2 linked regions of the Homo sapiens genome follow. Each later gene encodes a partner of the first gene's protein in a complex. Each region holds a gene or a part of one and is shown on either strand. Other genes may lie near its edges. The genes, in order: STX6 and VPS51.

Region 1 (8,349 bases):
AGCTTGGAGAATCACATCTGGCAGCATTTCACTGAAAACTTGCTGATGACTTTCCTAGGAATTATAGTTTTAGCTGCTGACCCAGAGAAGCCTTTTTCAAATCCTTGAAAGAGAAAGACGGCTATCTCCACACATCAAGCAAATCTTGCGCTATCCGTCACACATGCTGCCCAAATCAGTTTCATCTGATACAGGTAGCATTTCGTAGATACCAAGAGCCAGTGTTGGCAATTCTAGGGATGTGGCTTTTCCTCCCTGCTGTCTACAAAACAGCCCATCAAAATCATGGAACCTGTCATCTTCTCAAGGATTAAACTCCCTACAGACACCAGAATGAAGGCTCTTCATGGCAAGTCACCACAATGCCCACAGGACCACTTGCAATGCAGAACTTTCCCAGTAAGTAGCTGTCAAAAATGGAAACACTGCCCACATCTTTGAAGAATGCATCTTTTGGGAAAAACAAAATAAAGTCATCTGAGCATTCAGATTCTTCCATTCTTTTTTTTTTTTTTTTTTTGAGATGGAATTTCACTCTTGTTGCCCTGGCTGGAGTACAATGGCACAATCTCAGCTCACCACAACCTCCGCCTCCCAGGTTCAAGCAATTACCCCGCTTCAGCCTCCTGAGTAGCTGGGATTACAGGCATGCACCACCACGCCCGGCTAATTTTGTATTTTTAGTAGAGACGGGGTTTCTCCATGTTGGTCAGGCTGGTCTCAAACTCCTGACTTCAGGTGATCCACCCACATTGACCTCCCAAAGTATTGGTATTACAGGCATGAGCCACCGCGCCCAGCCAATTCTTCCATTCTTCATAAATAAAAAGTTGATTCTGGCAAACCAACCTCATTTATTTTTGAAGTTAGCCCAACATTGATCCCTCGTCAGATAGTTGAGCCTCTTCCATACAACCTCCCAATATGGTACATCACCAAACTAGCCTCTGGGGCCACAAGTAATACATTCAGTCCAAATACAGTCCAAAAAAAAAAAAAATCACAAAGTTTTCTTACTTGCATCTAACCAAGTTTGCCAAGTAAAATGAGAAGAAAGAGTATCTCAGCCATTAGGGAGCTTTGTTCCCCAGTATTTGTCATTCAGTTGTACCAACAAATTGCGTAAGTGTAGCCACAACCCCCATCATCCTTTTTCCTGTTGTGGTTGAGACAGGGTCTCACTGTCAACCAGGCTGGAGTGCAGTGGTGCAATCACAGCTCACTGTAATCTCGAATTCCTGGGTTCAAAGGATTCTTCCGTCTCAGCCTCCCAAGTTGCTAGGACTACAGGTGCACACTACCACGCCAAGCTAATTTTTTTTATTTATTGTAGAAACAGGGTCTCGCTGTTGCCCAGGCTGATCTCAAACTCCTGGCCTCAAGTGATCCTCCTGCCTTGGCCTCCCCCTTCATCGTTTTGATTTATCCTTTCTTCTTTGCCCATGCTGGCAGACTCTGAATTGGCATGTTCTAGTTATCGTGGTTGTTTAACAATGACCCCAAAATTTAGTGGTGTAAAACAACCATTTATCATGTCATGGAGTCTGTAGATCAGGAATCAGACACAGCAGAGCTGACTTGTCCCTGTTCCACAATGTCTGGGACCTCAGCTGAAAATATTAAACAGGCTGGGGCTGTAAAGGCATCACATCTCTCTATCTCTCCACAGTCTGCACACATGCTCTAACAGAGTGGCTTCAATGTAACTGGACTTGTTACATGTTAGCTCAGGGTAGCCTATACTTGTGTTCCAAGATGAAAGATGCAGATGGAAGGTATAGTGGTTGTCTTTTATGACTTAAGCTTCAGGAGTCAAGCAGCGTCACTTCTGCTTCAATCTGCTAGTCAAAGCAGTTTATAAAGGTCTGCCCAGGTTCAAAGGAAGGGAATACAAACTCCAGTTTGATAAAAGAATGCCAGCTTCACAATTTAATAAAAACAAACAGCCGGGCGTGGTGGCTCACGCCTGTAATCCCAGCACTTTGGGAAGCCGAGGTGGGTGGATCACCAGGTCAGGAGTTCGAGACCAGCCTGGCCAATACAGTCAAACCGTCTCTACTAAAAATACAAAAATTAGCCGGGTGTGGTGGCATGCACCTGTAAACCCAGCTACTCAGAAGGCTGAGGCAGAAGAATCGCTTGAACCCAGGAGGCGAAGGTTGCAGTAAGCCGAGATTGCACCACTGCACTCCAGCTTGGGAGACAGAGCAAGACTCCATCTCAAAAAAAAAAAAGAAAAAAAAAGAAAGAAAAGCAACACAGGACAGAACATTTATTGGTGCAGCCATCAATGGAAAAAATACAATCTGCCACAACTCTTTTATCTGGGACAGCACCTACTCTGCAAGTCTTTACAGAGGGATCCCCATTTCATCAATACAGTAAAAGAGGCTAGTCAAGGCTGAAAGTTTCCATTCTAGTAATGAAACATGAAAAATTCAGGTTGAGTGAGCCTCTGCAACACATCAGACTCCCACTCCTCACTCTTCTCCAACTGGTTCCTGCCCCATACCCCACAAACCTGGTTTCACCACTCATCTCTCCAGAAAGAGAGGAACTCTTTTTATTGCTTGACTTCTACATTCACATCGTTTGTATTTGAAAGGAAACACATGCACACCCTTTACTTGACTTTATTGCCATTTCCAAATTCAACCACACTGTGACATATTTTGTAATTACTCTTGTGAAAATGAAACATCATTTTTACTCAGTTACCTACAATTATATACAATTTTTGACCCTAACTTACTGCTGCTTCCACAACTCCACCAATGACACTGCAGGTCAAAGTCACGAGTGAATTTAACTTGTCCTCATTTTTGGTGCACTTGACACTATGGCCCATTATATCTATTTGCTTGAAACTCTCACTTTCTCTGTCTCTGTGACATTGTGCTGTTCTAGTTTTCTACCAGTTTTCTCCTTCCTCTTCCTCCACTGGATCCCAATGTTTCTCAGTACTCTTTGTGGCCTCTATGTGCTCATCAGCATTCACAAGTTCAAAGCACCCCTCTTAAGCTGATGACTCCCCCACTATACTTCCAACCCTAACCACTCAGCCAGGCTTAATTCCTATATTTTTAGCTGCCTATAGGATCATTCCATTTGCCTAAAACCAAATTAATCATATCCTCCCTACAAAACATAATGTATTCAAAACAAACAAAATAGAAAAATCTGCTTCCCTTTCTAGCTTCCTCATTTTAGCCAATAGTGCCACCATTTTCCAAGTTTCAACACTTGTCTAGACAAGAGTCATTTTTGACTCCTCCTCCTCCTTACCTTGCACAACCTCTACTTAAATCCAATCACTGAATTTTCAGATCTGGAAAGAACTTTCAAGATAATCTAGTTTGTGCTCCTTAAACATAAATAAGAGACCTTGGGGCTCAGACATATTGGCTGCTTGCCTCAAGTTCTTCCAACCCTGATTATAAGACACTTTCTATTACCAAGACTTATTTAATTGCATTTTTCCAAAACTTCCACACAAATCTTTTTTTTTTTTTTTGAGAGGGAGTTTTGCACTGTCACCAGGGCTGGAGTGCAGTGGCGTGATCTCAGCTCACTGCAAAAGAGGGTTCAAGCAATTCTCCTGCCTCAGCCTCCCAAGTAGCTGGGACTACAGGTGCCCACCACCACACCCAGCTAATTTTTTGTATCTTTGGTAGAGATGGGGTTTCACCATGTTGGCCAGGCTGGTCTCGAATTCCTGACCTCATGATTCGCCTGCCTTGGCCTCCCAAAGTGCTGGGATTACAGGCATGAGCCATCGCACCTGGCCCACAAATCTGTTTTCTTTGTAGAATCAGAAGATCTGGGTTTGAACCCTTAAAAGCTGACTATAAGCAAGTGAATAGTAACTGCTAGTTTAAAAACTGCCTCCTGATTTAGAATTTATGATAGAAATCAGATTAAATTTAAACTCCTCAGGCAGGTATTCAAACCCTCTCCCACTCCTCCTCCTAACCCAAACTGGCTGACTTTAGTATCAAGCATGGTTTCTCACTGAACAAATTCTGTTTCAGTTGGCAGGTCTTCTTCCCATCTTTATCTTTCTCATTCCTGGTTCTTGACTTCCACTCAGTTGTTTCCCCAGCCTAGAAGAGCCTTACACCTCAGCAGACACTTCCTTTAAGGCCCAGATTGACCAGCATTCCCAGCATGGGTCTTTCTTTTTTTTTCAATCTCCACAGCATCTCAACTCTACTGCAAAATCTTACACAATATATCTTTCACTTATCTGCATAGTGTTCTCCAAACTAAGGAGCTAAATAATATTAAACACTCAAATTTATAATAAAGGCTTGCAAATTTGTTCTTACAACGAAACACTGGATTCTGCTTTTTAGAAAGTATTAAATTTGATTTACATTCAATTTTACTAGGCCAAAATTAACAAACAAGGGTTATTTTTTTCACAGTGACTATACCAATACAGTTTTTCAACAGTGAATAGAATGCGTGATGCCCTCGAGGAGCTCATAATCTAGTGTTAATAAAGCTAGATATGCAGACAGAGAAGGTTAAAGAACACAACATAACATATACCATCTTACTCATCAGCTTACTTATGTCATTATTTCAACATCAATCCACAGCCAAAAACCTGGAAATAAAACTGTTATCATGCTGGGTGCGGTGGCTCATGCCTGTAATCCAAGCACTTTGGGAGGCCGAGGCGGGCAGATCACCTGAGGTCAGGAGTTCAAGACCAGCCTGGTAAACACAGTGAAACCCTGTCTCTACTAAAAATACAAAAACTATCCGGGCGTGATGGCGGGCTACTCGGGAGGCAGAGGCAGGGAGAAGTGCTTGAACCCGGGAGGCGGAGGTTGCAGTGAGCCAAGACGCGCCACTGCACTCCAGCCTGGGTGACAGAATGAGACTCTGTCTCAAAAACAAACAAACAAACAAAAAAACCATCCTCGGCTGGGCGCAGTGGCTCATGCCTGTAATCCCAGCACTTTGGGAGGCCGAGGTGGGAGGATCACGAGGTCAGGAGATCGAGACCATCCTGGCTAACACAGTGAAACCCCGTATCTACTGAAAATACAAAAAAAAAAAAATTAGCTGGGCGTGGTGGCGGGCACCTGTAGTCCCAGCTACTCAGGAGGCTGAGGCAGGAGAATGGCGTGAACCCGGGAGGCGGAGCTTGCAGTGAGCCGAGATCGCGCCACTGCACTCCAGCCTGGGCAACAGAGTGAGACTCCGTCTCAAAAAAACAAACAAACAAACAAACAAAAAACTATCCTCATCAGACACACAAAACCTCCACAGCAATAAAATAGCAAAGAGCCATGGTATTTGTACCTTTTATCCACAGGAGTGGCTCACTTATACTCTGTCTCCACATGCTCAGTTACATGGTTTTCTTCAGGGTTTGTCTGATTAGAAGGTGCAAATTCTAAAAGGAGGCTAATTCTAAAAACTTGCCAACAAGGGAGGAAAAAAACTACAGAACTAAACAATCAAAATGGGTTCACTCAACAAACACTGAGTACATCCTTACTGAATACAAAGATGAAGACTACAAGATTTAAATATGATATTTTCACCCGGAGATTAGTAAAGATTTTTTTAATGAAAATCCCAGTACTGGAATCAAGGGAATTGGGTCCCTCAAACACTTTGAGGGGCAAGGGGGAATATTCTGGAGGACAACGTGGTAGTATGCATCAAACGCTTTGCTGTGCCTGCCCTCTGAATTAGCAATTATGCTCCAGGAATACAGGCTATGAAAATCAGAAGCAGCAATACAGACCTATGACAAGTAGGCTTATCACCACATTAATTGTAGTGTGATCATAAATATAATGTATCTTCCAGGATGAACATTTATATGACAAAATACAATGCAGTCATTAAAAGCTGCCACCCAGAAGTCTGAAGGATATAAAGAAATACAGATGAAAACGTCATAAAACAGGCCAGGCGCGGTGGCTCATGCCTATAATCCCAACACTTTGGGAAGCCAAGGTGTGTGGATCACCTGAGGTCAAAGTTCAAGACCAGCCTGGCTAACAGGGTGAAATGCCATCTCTACTAAAAATACAAAATTAGCCAGGCATAGTGGCGCACATTGGTAGTCCCAGCTACTTGGGAGGGTGTGGCAGGAGAATCGCTTGAACCCAAGAGGTAGAGGTTGCAGTGAGCTGAGATCACGCCATCGCCATTGCACTCCAGCCTGGGCGACAGAGTAAGACTCTGTCCCAAAAAAAAAAAAAAAAAAAAAAAAAAGAAAAGAAAAAGTGATAAAACCATATATAACGTATAATCCCAATTTTTAAAATGACCATATTATATATATAATATATATTTGTAATAAATATATAAATCCTGGCCCTTCTACGTACAAGCTTATAAAGTTGAAGTTTTTTACTAAGTTTCATTTTCCTTTTTGTGAAATGATGACAATAATAATACCTACTTCATAAGGATAAAAGAGCAATCCCTGTTGTGGGATTCTGTTCCGAACAGGACATTGACAATGTCAAAACCTCCCAAAAGGAGCTTCAAACTTCCAAGCACTAACCACTGCATGTATAAGTTACAACAGCTTTCTAACTGGTCTCCTTTTTCATCTTTCCTCACACTGATGCATCCAACACTACCACCAAATCAATATTCCTAAAATCCTAATTTCATGTCATTTCCTTGCTTTAAAAATCTGTAATGGCCTCAAGATGAGATTCTCCTTAGGCCAACATAACTTGACCCTATTTTACCTGCACTGGGAAGTATTGACAGTAGTGTGAAATCAGGTTGTTCTAATTTGAAGCCTGAGTACACCACTTATTAGCTGTGTGACCCTAGGCAAGTAAGTTAACCCCTCTAACACTTCCTCAGCTTCTCATCTCTAAAATGTGGCTAGTATTCATCATATGGGTGTTTTTACAGAGTGAAAATTCATATAAAGTGCTTACTTAGCACTTTACATGTATGCCTGGCACTGGAGATGCATCCTTTAAATGTGAGCTGTTACTACTTCCCTAAACTGTCTACTCCACCTGGGCTGCTCTTCCAGATCATTTCTAACACACATTGCCCAACTTAGGCCTTTGGCTGGTGGTGTTCTCACCCATGAGGCACCATTCCATCACAATCACCACCATCAACAAAGAGTATGTGTTCAACATTTACACTATATATTCAAGGTGTAGGCTGGAAATACAGAGGAAAAAAAAAAAAAAAACAGTCCCAAACCTCAGAGCTCATAGTCTAATAATGAAAGAGAGACAGAGGAAGAGGTCCAATAATTAGGGGTGACAAAGGAAGCACTTCCTGGAGGCAAGGGAGATGCTTACACTGACTCCAGAAAGCTGCGTGGGTGAATCAGGCAGTGTGGGTGCATGTAGAGTAAGAGCATCCAGTACAGCAATCACAGTCACTGTATTGAGTCTGGCACTGCTGGAGTACTAAGGCTAAGGGAGAGCAGAGGCTAGATCAGTGAGGTCAGGAAGTGTTGGCACTTTATTCTGCAGGCCAGCAGCAGCCACTGAATAATATTAAGTAGGGTACACCTGTCTAGGACTCTAGAAAAGCTTACACTGTGCTGTCCAACACGGAAGCCACATACAACTACTGACTGGAAATGTGGCTAGTGTGACAGAAATTAAATTTTAATTAATGTAAACTTGGTAACTGATAGCAATTCAGTTATCAAAAACCTTTTATGTATGTTTGGAACAATTAAAGAGTATGTAGGCCGGGCGCGGTGGCTCACGCCTGTAATCACAGCACTTTGGGAGGCCGAGACAGGTGGATCACAAGGTCAGGAGATCGAGACCATCCTGGCTAACATGGTGAAACCCCGTCTCTACTAAAAAATACAAAAAATTAGCCGGGCGTGGTGGCGGGTGCCCTGCCCATAGTCCTAAAAATACAAAAATTAGCCAGGTGAGGTGGTACACACCTATAGTCCCAGCTACTCAGGAGGCTGAGGTGCAAGAATCGCTTGAACCTGGGAGGCAGAGGTTGCAGTGAGCCGTGATTGCACCACTGCACTCCAGTCTGGGCAACAGAACAAGACTCTGTCTCAAAAAAAAAAAATGTATTTAATGAACTTTAAATACAGATCAATTATTTCTGATGAAAATTTAATGTCCAAATTTAAATGTGCAGTAAGTGTAAAATATGTATCAGATTTAGAAGACTTAGTACAAAAGTAAAATATCTCATCAATAATCTTTAATCACATGTTGAATATTTTGAATGTATTAGAGATTACATTAGAATTAATTTCACCTGTTCCTTTATATTTTACTGCGGCTACTAGAAAATGTAAAATGACATACATGGCTGGCATTATACTTCTATTGGACAGCAATGATCCAATAGATCCCA
Region 2 (8,349 bases), on another chromosome or scaffold:
CTCCTCTCAGTTCCCCATCACTGCCTCTTCTCCTCCTCCTGTCACCTCCTTGTGCACATCCACATGGATGAGCCTTCCAATGTTCCTGACTGTTCACTGACGGCCTCAATTCAATTCCACCTATTCTTTTTTTTTTTTTTTGAGACTGAGTCTCGCTCTGTCGCCCAGACTGGAGTGCAGTGGCACGACCTCTGCTCACTGCAAACTCCAATTCCCAGGTTCACACCATTCTCCTGCCTCAGCCTCCCAAGTAGCTGGGACTACAGGTGCCTGCCACCACACCCAGCTAATTTTTTGTATTTTTAGTAGAGATGGAGTTTCACCATGTTAGCCAGGATGGTCTTGATCTCCTGACCTCATGATCCGCCCACCTTGGCCTCCCAAAGTGCTGGGATTACAGGCATGAGCCACCGCACCCGACGAGGTCTGATGGTTTTATAAGGGGCTCTCCCTGCTTCGCTTAACACTTCTCCTTCCTGCTGCCTTGTGAAGAAGATGCCTTGCTTCTCTTTCACCTTCTGCCATGATTGTAAGTTTCCTGAGGCCTCCCCAGCCATGCTGTGAACTGTGAGTCAATTAAACCTCTTTCCTTTATAAGTTACCTAGTCTCGGGCAGTTCTTTACAGCAGTATGAACCTGGATTAATATACCTAGTAATCAATCCATTACCAAGTCATGGAAGGTCTACCTGCAACATTTTCTTTGTAAGCCACTATCATCTCTTGTCCAACAACTGCCAACATTTCCCAACTAATTTCCCTAATTCCATTGAACATACCAACAATGTTCATAAAGAAAGGCGAAGAGGATAAGACAGAAATGTGTATCTGTAACAGGAGATATTTTGGTTTTGTTTTGTTTGAGAAAGAGTCTCACTCTGTCACCCAGGCTGGAGTGCAGTGGCGCGATCTCAGCTCTGGAGGCTCCTGGAGGGTGGCACGCCCGGGGAGGGCATGGAAACTCCATGCTCCTTCTCCTACACCTCGCCCTATGCACCTGCTCATCTGTACCCTTTGTAACATCCTTTGTAATAAACTGGTAAATGTGTTATCCTGAGCTCTGTGAGCCACTCCAGCAAACTGAGCCCAAAGAGGGAGTTATGGAAACCCCTACCTGGAGCCAGTTGGTCAGAAATTCTGGAGGCCTGAGGCCCTGACCTGCAGCTAGTGCCTGAAAGTGGGGAGGCAGATTTGGGACTGAACTAGTGCCTGAAGGGAGGCAGGCTTGGGGACTCAGCCCTCAACTCATGGAATCTGATGCTATCTCTGGGTAAATAGTGTTGGAATTAAATCAGAGGACACCCAGCGGGTGTCTGCTGCTTGGTGTGTGGGGAAGAAACCCAACACATTTGGTCACAGAACTCTTCTGTGGTCATGATTGTGGTGATGTGAGAGCATAGGAAGCACACAGTTTGCATTTTTCCCAAACAATGCCATAAAATATATACAAACCTTTCCATATGGTAGATCACAAAGAAAAAAACCTCATTCTTTTTTTTTTTTTGAGACAGGGTCTCCCTCCGTCGCCCAGGCTGCAGTGCAGTGGCGCGATCTCAGCTCACTGCAACCTCCACCTCCTGGGTTCAAGCGATTCTCCTGCCTCAGCCCCGAGTAGCTGGGATTACAGGCACGTGCCACCATGCCTGGCTAATTTTTGTACTTTTAGTAGAGAGGGTTTCACCATGTTGGCCAGACTGGTCTCTGACCTCAAGTGATCCACCCGCCTCGGCCTCCCAAAGTGCTGGGATTACAGGCGGGAGCCACCGTGCCCAGTCGAAAAAACCTCATTGTTAACCAATTATGAGGTCAGAAAAGGAAATCAAAACTGAAATTGCAGCATGGGTAAAATACCAAGAAAACACTAAATTGGTAAGGGCTTGGTGAATTCTATGGATGAAATGGATAATTTGCTACAAAAATAGGATTTACCAAAATGGATTGCAAAAAACAAGAAAACAGAAACAGAAAAACTAGAGAATGTTGTGAAAGAAAGGTCCTACTCCCCTTTCCCCTCCACACAAAGGCATCTGGCCCAGATGTCCAGGGGTGTTGCGGCGGCTTGAAGGACAGCGCCTTCCAATTCTCTGTGTAAACACTGCCCCAGCAGAGAAACGAGAACAGCTCTCACACAAACTTGATGGAACAAACATAACACTGTTATGAAAACATAACAGAAATACCTCACATATACACATTCATATCTCTTATGAATGGAGATGCAAGGATGAATTAAATAAACAAATGGAGATGCACAAATAAGCAAACAAAATCCAGCAGCATATTAAAATAATAATTGATAAACACAAAAGGGTTTTTGTTTCATGAATGCCAGGATGACTCAAAATTAGAGGATCTCATAATAATTTGCCATGTTAATAGATATTTCAACATCTATTCTTGATTTTTAAAAAACTCTCAATAACATATGAGCAGCTAAATATTTCCCTGACCTCCAAAACTCAGTATCATGTTTACCGAGGCAGTGCTAGAAGCACTCCAATTAAAGTCAAAACATGGCAAGGACAACCTTGATTGCCAATGTTATCTACATTGTTCTGGGGCATTAGCCAACTCAGCTAGAGTCACGAGATGTATTATGGAGATACACAAATTGGAAAGGAGGGAGAAGTATCACTATTTGCAGATGATATAATCAAATAAATAGGCCAGCCACGGTAGCTCATGCCTGTAATCCCAGCACTTTGGGAGGCCGAGGCAGGCAGATCACTTGACGTCAGGAGTTTGAGACCAGCCTGGCCAACATGGTAAAACCCTGTCTCTAGTAAAAATACAAAAAGTAGTTGGGCGTGGTGGCAGGTGCCTGTAATCCTAGCTACTGGGAAGGCTGAGGCAGGAGAATCGCTTGAACCCTGGAGGCACAAGTTGTAGTGAGCTGAGATTGTGCCACTGCACTCTAACCTGAGTAATAGAGCAACACTCTGTCTCAAATAATAATAATTGAATAAATAGAAAGCCCTAAAAAAAAAAAACAAAAAAAAACACCCTGTAAACGTTACTATAAACAATAAGAGATACCACTTTTCACTTCTCAGATTGTCAAAGATTGAAAGAGGTATTCTCTTCTTTGCTGGTGGTTATGCAAACTGATCAGCATTTACAAAGAAGAATCTGGAAATATCTAACTGCAATCACTTGTGAGCCTTCACACACCCACACCTGGTCTGTGTGTGGCTCTGGGACTGTAGGAATGTTCTCCAAGCAACACTGGGAATCTACCCCACTTGGGGAGACAGCTGGAAGGGTGAGTAAGGAGAAAAGCATTGATGTCAATTTGACAAGAAACAAACAGAAACAAAAAATGCAGGAAAAAAATATTAGAGAAAATATAAGAGAAAGAACTGTCTGAGACAAAGAATCTACAGGGCTCACATCTGTAGAGCTATTAAGGGATTTTTTAAAAAATTACATGGAAAGGTAGATTACGTATCAGCAAAATGGACTTTTCATTTTAACAACACAGTCCACAAGAAAGGATCATTTAGCCCTCTTAGAGATGATTTCATAGAAAGGAAGGTTACTAAGGAATAAAATCACATGATGTGAAACATCTATATTACTTTTGGGACCATAGGGACCATTGCCTGCATTTTGTTGGGGAAATCATAATTATTTTGAGTTTCTTTGCTTGAGATAGGGTCTTGCTCTGTCTACAGGCATGGTGATGCACACTTATAATCCCAGCTACTCAGGAGGCTAAGGCAGGAGAATCACCTTAACTGGGGAGGCGGAGGTTACAGTGAGCCAAGATGGCATGCAGTGGTGCAAACACAGCTTACTGCAGCCTTGAACTCTGGGGCTCAAGTGATCCTCCTACCTTAGCTTCTGAAGTAGCTGGGACTACACACAAGCGCCATCACACCCGGCTAATTTTTTAATTTTTGTTTAAATTTTGTGTAGAGATGGGGTCTCTCTATGTTGCCCAGGCTGGTCTCAAACTTCTGGGCTCAAGCAATGCTCCCACTTCAGCCTCCCAAAGTGCTGGGAGCACAGGAGTGAGCCACTGTGCCTGGCAAGAAAATTTTTCTTGCCAATTCATAGATGGTGAACTAAAGGACATAGCAAAGGCAGCGCTATGCAGTGAAAAACAATAAAAGCAGAGCCGAGGCTGAGGTTCGTAAAGGGATCATGGGCTACTGATCTAAGGGAGACAGACAGAGGCTTGGCAGTTGATGAGGCATTTGGTCTTCACCCAGTGAATTACTGGTTTTGTTTACAGGCCATGTGACACAATCTCCTTCCAGGTCTGCCAAAAGCTACCATGAAAAGAGCAGACTCTTTTGGTAGTGGGTGTTTGAGCCCATGACACTTAGGGGCTACCTCAAGAAGGAAGCTTGAATCCAACTTCTAAAGGGTAAAATCCAAACACTAAGTTGTTAGGAAAATAGAGTAAAAGAAAACCCAACAGTGCTGTGTGCTGTCATTGTCGCTGCCTTCCCAGCCATGGAGCCATTACACTGGAGATAAAAGTTGTACCATATCCAAAAACAACAGTGAAAGCATCCACACCATTCAGTCACAAAGACTACACTGTTTATCTTTGCATTTCAAGCTTGTTAAGAAAAGCAGGCTGGGCACAGTGGCTCACGCCTGTAACCCCAGCACTTTGGGAGGCCAAGGCAGGTGGATCACCTGAGGTCACCTGCCTGACCAACATGGTGAAATCCCGTCTCTACTGAAAATACAATAATTAGCCAAGTGTGGTGGCAGGTGCCTGTAATCCCAGGTACTTGGAAGCCTAAGACAGGAGAATCACTTGAACCCCGGAGGCGGAGGTTGCAGTGAGCCGATTGGGCCACTGCACTCTAGCCTGGATGACAGAGCAAGACTCTGTCTCAAAAAAAAAAAAAAAAAAAAGCTTGTTAAGAAAAGCAGTTTGTAACCAGGGAGAGTGAAAGCCATCTGGATGCGAGGATGTTGGCTACCTTGGGAGGGGACTGGGTGGTAACTGGTAGGAGGCTCAGGGGGCTTTGCTGGTTATGCTGTTTCCCGACCTGGATGCTGATTATGTGACTGTGCTCCCTTTGTGAAATCCATGGAGCTGTCCACTTATGTGCACTTTTCTGTATGTCTGTTAATTTTCTTTTTTTTTTTTTTTTTTTTTTTTTTTTTGAGACAAGGTCTGGCTCTGTCACCCAGGCTGGAGTGCAGTGACACAATCTTGGCTTACTGCAACCTCTGCCTCCCAGGTACAAGCCTTCCACCTCAGCTTCCTGAGCAGCTCGGACTACAGGGACACAACACCACACCCAGCTAATTTTTGTATTTTTTGTAGAGACAGGTATAACCTGTTGGCCAGGATGGTCTCGAACTCCTGAGCTCAAGCAATCTGCCTGCCTCTGCCTCACAAAGTGTTGGGATTATAGGTATGAGCCATAATCCCACCTGGGCTCTGTTAATTTTCAGTGAAATGTACTGTCAAAGACTGCTTTGTCTTTGCCTAGAGAAAAGAATTAGGAGAGGCTTTTCCCTGTATAATGTTTGAGATCTTTCTAATTTTGACACAAGTAAATGCATTATTACATAATGAAACTCAATGTCTAGGTGAGAGGTTGGCAAACTACAGCCTGCAGGCCAAATCTGGCTCAATGCCTGGTTTTCTTTTTAATTGGGATATAATTGACATACCAATTCAGTGGTTTTTAATATGTTTAATATATTCACAAGGTTGTACAACCAACCTCACTACGTAATTCCAGAACATTTCATCATCCCCTAAAGAAACCCTGTAACCCTTGGCAGTCATTCCTTATTCCCCCACTCCTAGAACTTGGCAACCATTAATCTAGTTTCTGTCTCTATGGATTTGTCTATTCGCTACAGAATACATTTAACAGAAATGGAATCATAGGCATATGAAACATTAGCATGTTTCCAAGGTTAATCTATGTTGTAGCCTGTGTCAGTATGTTATATCTATTTTTATGGCTGAATAATATTCCACTGTGTGGATATTTGTTTATATTCATTCAATTGATGGCCATTTGGATTGCTTCCACCTTGTGGCTATTATAAAAAGTGCTGCTATTGGCCAGGCATGGTGGCTCTTGCCTGTAATCCCAGTACTTTGGGAAGCCGAGGCAAGCGGATCACTTGAGGTCAGGAGTTCAAGACCAGCCTGGCCAACAAGGTGGAATCCCGTCTCTAGTAAATATACAAAAAATAAAAATAAAAAAATTAGGCGGGTGTGATGGTGCACACCTATAATCCCAGCTACTCAGGAGGCTGAGGCAGGAGAATCGCTTGAACTGGGGAGGCGGAGGTTACAGTGAGCCAAGATGGCACCACTGCACTCTAGCCTGGGTGACAGAGCTAGACTCCATCTCAAAAAAAAAAAAAAAAAAAAAAACACTGCTATGAACACTTGTGTACATGTTTTTATGTGAACATGTTTTCAATTCTCTTTGGTATATTCCTAGGAGTAAAATTGCCGATCATATGGTAATCTTGTGTGTGGTTTTGAAGAATGGTCAAACTGTCTTCCACACTGGGTGCAGCATTTTGTGGTTTGGATTTGCATTTCCCTAAGACCTAATGATGCTGAGCATATTTATATGTGCTTTTCGGCCACTTGTATGTTTTCTCTGGAGAAGTGTCTATTCAAATCCTTTGCCCATTTTAAATTAGGGTTATTTGTCTTTTTAGCCCTGAGCTAAAAAACGTTCTTTTTATGTTCTGAACACTAGATTTTTATTAGATAACTAACTTGCAAATATTTTCTCCCATTCTGTGGGCTGTCCTTTTATTATTATTTATTATTATTATTATTTTTGAGACGGAGTCTCGCTCTGTTGCCCAGGCTGGAGTGCAGTGGCGCGATCTCGACTCACTGCAACCTCCGCCTCCTGGGTTCAAGCGATTCTCCTGCCTCAGCCTCCTGAGTAGCTGGGACTACAGATGCCTGCCACCATGCCTGACTAATTTTTGTATTTTTAGTAGAGATGGGGTTTCACCATATTGGCCAGCCTGGTCTCAAATGCCTGACCTCAGATGATCCACCCGTCTCGGCCTCTCAGAGTGCTAAGATTATAGGCATAAGCCACCGCACCTGGCCTTTTTATTTATTTATTTATTTTTTGAGACTAGGTCTTGCTCTGTCACCCAGGCTAGAGTGCAATGGTGAGATTATAGCTCACTGCAATCTCCAGCTCCTGGGCTCATGTGATCCACCCACCTTAGCCTCCCCAAGTAGCTGGGTTTATTCTAACAAGTGTGTGCCACCATACCCAGCTATTTTTTTTTTTCTAGATATCGGGTCTCACTATGTTGCACAGGCTGGTCTCAAACTCCTGGGCTCAAGTGATCCTCCCACCTCAGCCTTCCAAAGTGCAGGGATTACAGGCATGAGCCACTGTGCTCAGCCCCATCCATTCCTGCCAGTGCAGCTGGAGGAATCTATTCAAACCAGAAATCTGAGCACATCACTCATTTGTTTTAGCTCTCTGTGGATAAAAGCCAAATCCCTAATACATTCTGGAAGGTTTCTAGTTAAACTGCACATCTACTATCTGCCTGGCTCTGCCCACATTCTGCTTCCCCTCCTGCTACCATAGATGAGCTCCCGGCCCTTTGCTGAGGCCGATGCCTCCATCCCTGCTCTGTTCCACCCCCCTCCTTCCTGAGGACCTAGTTCCTTTCTCATTTTTCTCTCTCTCTTGCCCAATCAACACACACTCCATGCTACATTACTTTCCTGAGTGTCTCGCCCAAGTCTATCAAATCTATGTCTTGAAACACCTTCCTCACGCAACCTCCACCTCCTGGGTTCAAGCAATTCTCCTGCCTCAGCCTCATGAGTAGCTTGGACTACAGGCATGCACCACCTTGCCCAGCTAATTTTTGTATTTTTAGTAGAGACAGGGTTTCACCATGTTGGCCAGGCTGGTCTTGAACTCCTAGCCTCAAGTGATCCACCCACCTCAGCCTCCCAAAGTGCTGGGATCACGGGTGAGAACCCCATGCCCGGCCCCTCACTTAAGCTTCTAAGACATCAATGCTCCTGGTTATCCTCACACTTTTCCAAACGTTTGTTCCTTTTGTGGGATGTACAAAAAGAGCTAAGTCTCAAAATATTATTATACACATTCCAACAAATGGAAAATGTAATCTTATTAAATTCCTGTGAGAAATATCCCAGCACAGAAACTATGATTTCTTGCCATTTTGATGCTGGTATTAGCTAACAGAAAGGTGCCTACTCATGGAATCTGCTTCAAATCAGATAAAAGAACAATGTGTATAGGTTACCACACCCACCACTGTGACACGAGAGTAAGACATCAGAATGCAACCCCACAGATGCTCCCAGAACATTCCACAGGCTGCAGGTAAA

The links.
Region 2: the proteins of STX6 (region 1) and VPS51 are in contact, whole or in part, in a crystal structure (PDB 4J2C), measured with the Homo sapiens proteins. Residues at the interface, in NP_005810.1 of Homo sapiens: Met3, Glu4, Asp5, Pro6, Phe7, Val9, Val10, Glu13, Trp59, Asp60, Asp63, Leu64, Glu66, Thr67, Ile70, Val71, Phe78, Arg88; in NP_037397.2 of Homo sapiens: Ala33, His34, Met36, Leu37, Leu39, Tyr40, Tyr41, Gly42, Leu43.

The regions. Positions count from the first base shown.
Region 1 is NC_000001.11:181,012,172-181,020,520, forward strand, and holds part of STX6 (syntaxin-6), read right to left. Parts: intron 1-8,349. UniProt on the Homo sapiens protein: SNARE promoting movement of transport vesicles to target membranes. Targets endosomes to the trans-Golgi network, and may therefore function in retrograde trafficking.
Region 2 is NC_000011.10:65,098,543-65,106,891, reverse strand, and holds part of VPS51 (vacuolar protein sorting-associated protein 51 homolog), read right to left. Parts: intron 1-8,349. UniProt on the Homo sapiens protein: Acts as a component of the GARP complex that is involved in retrograde transport from early and late endosomes to the trans-Golgi network (TGN).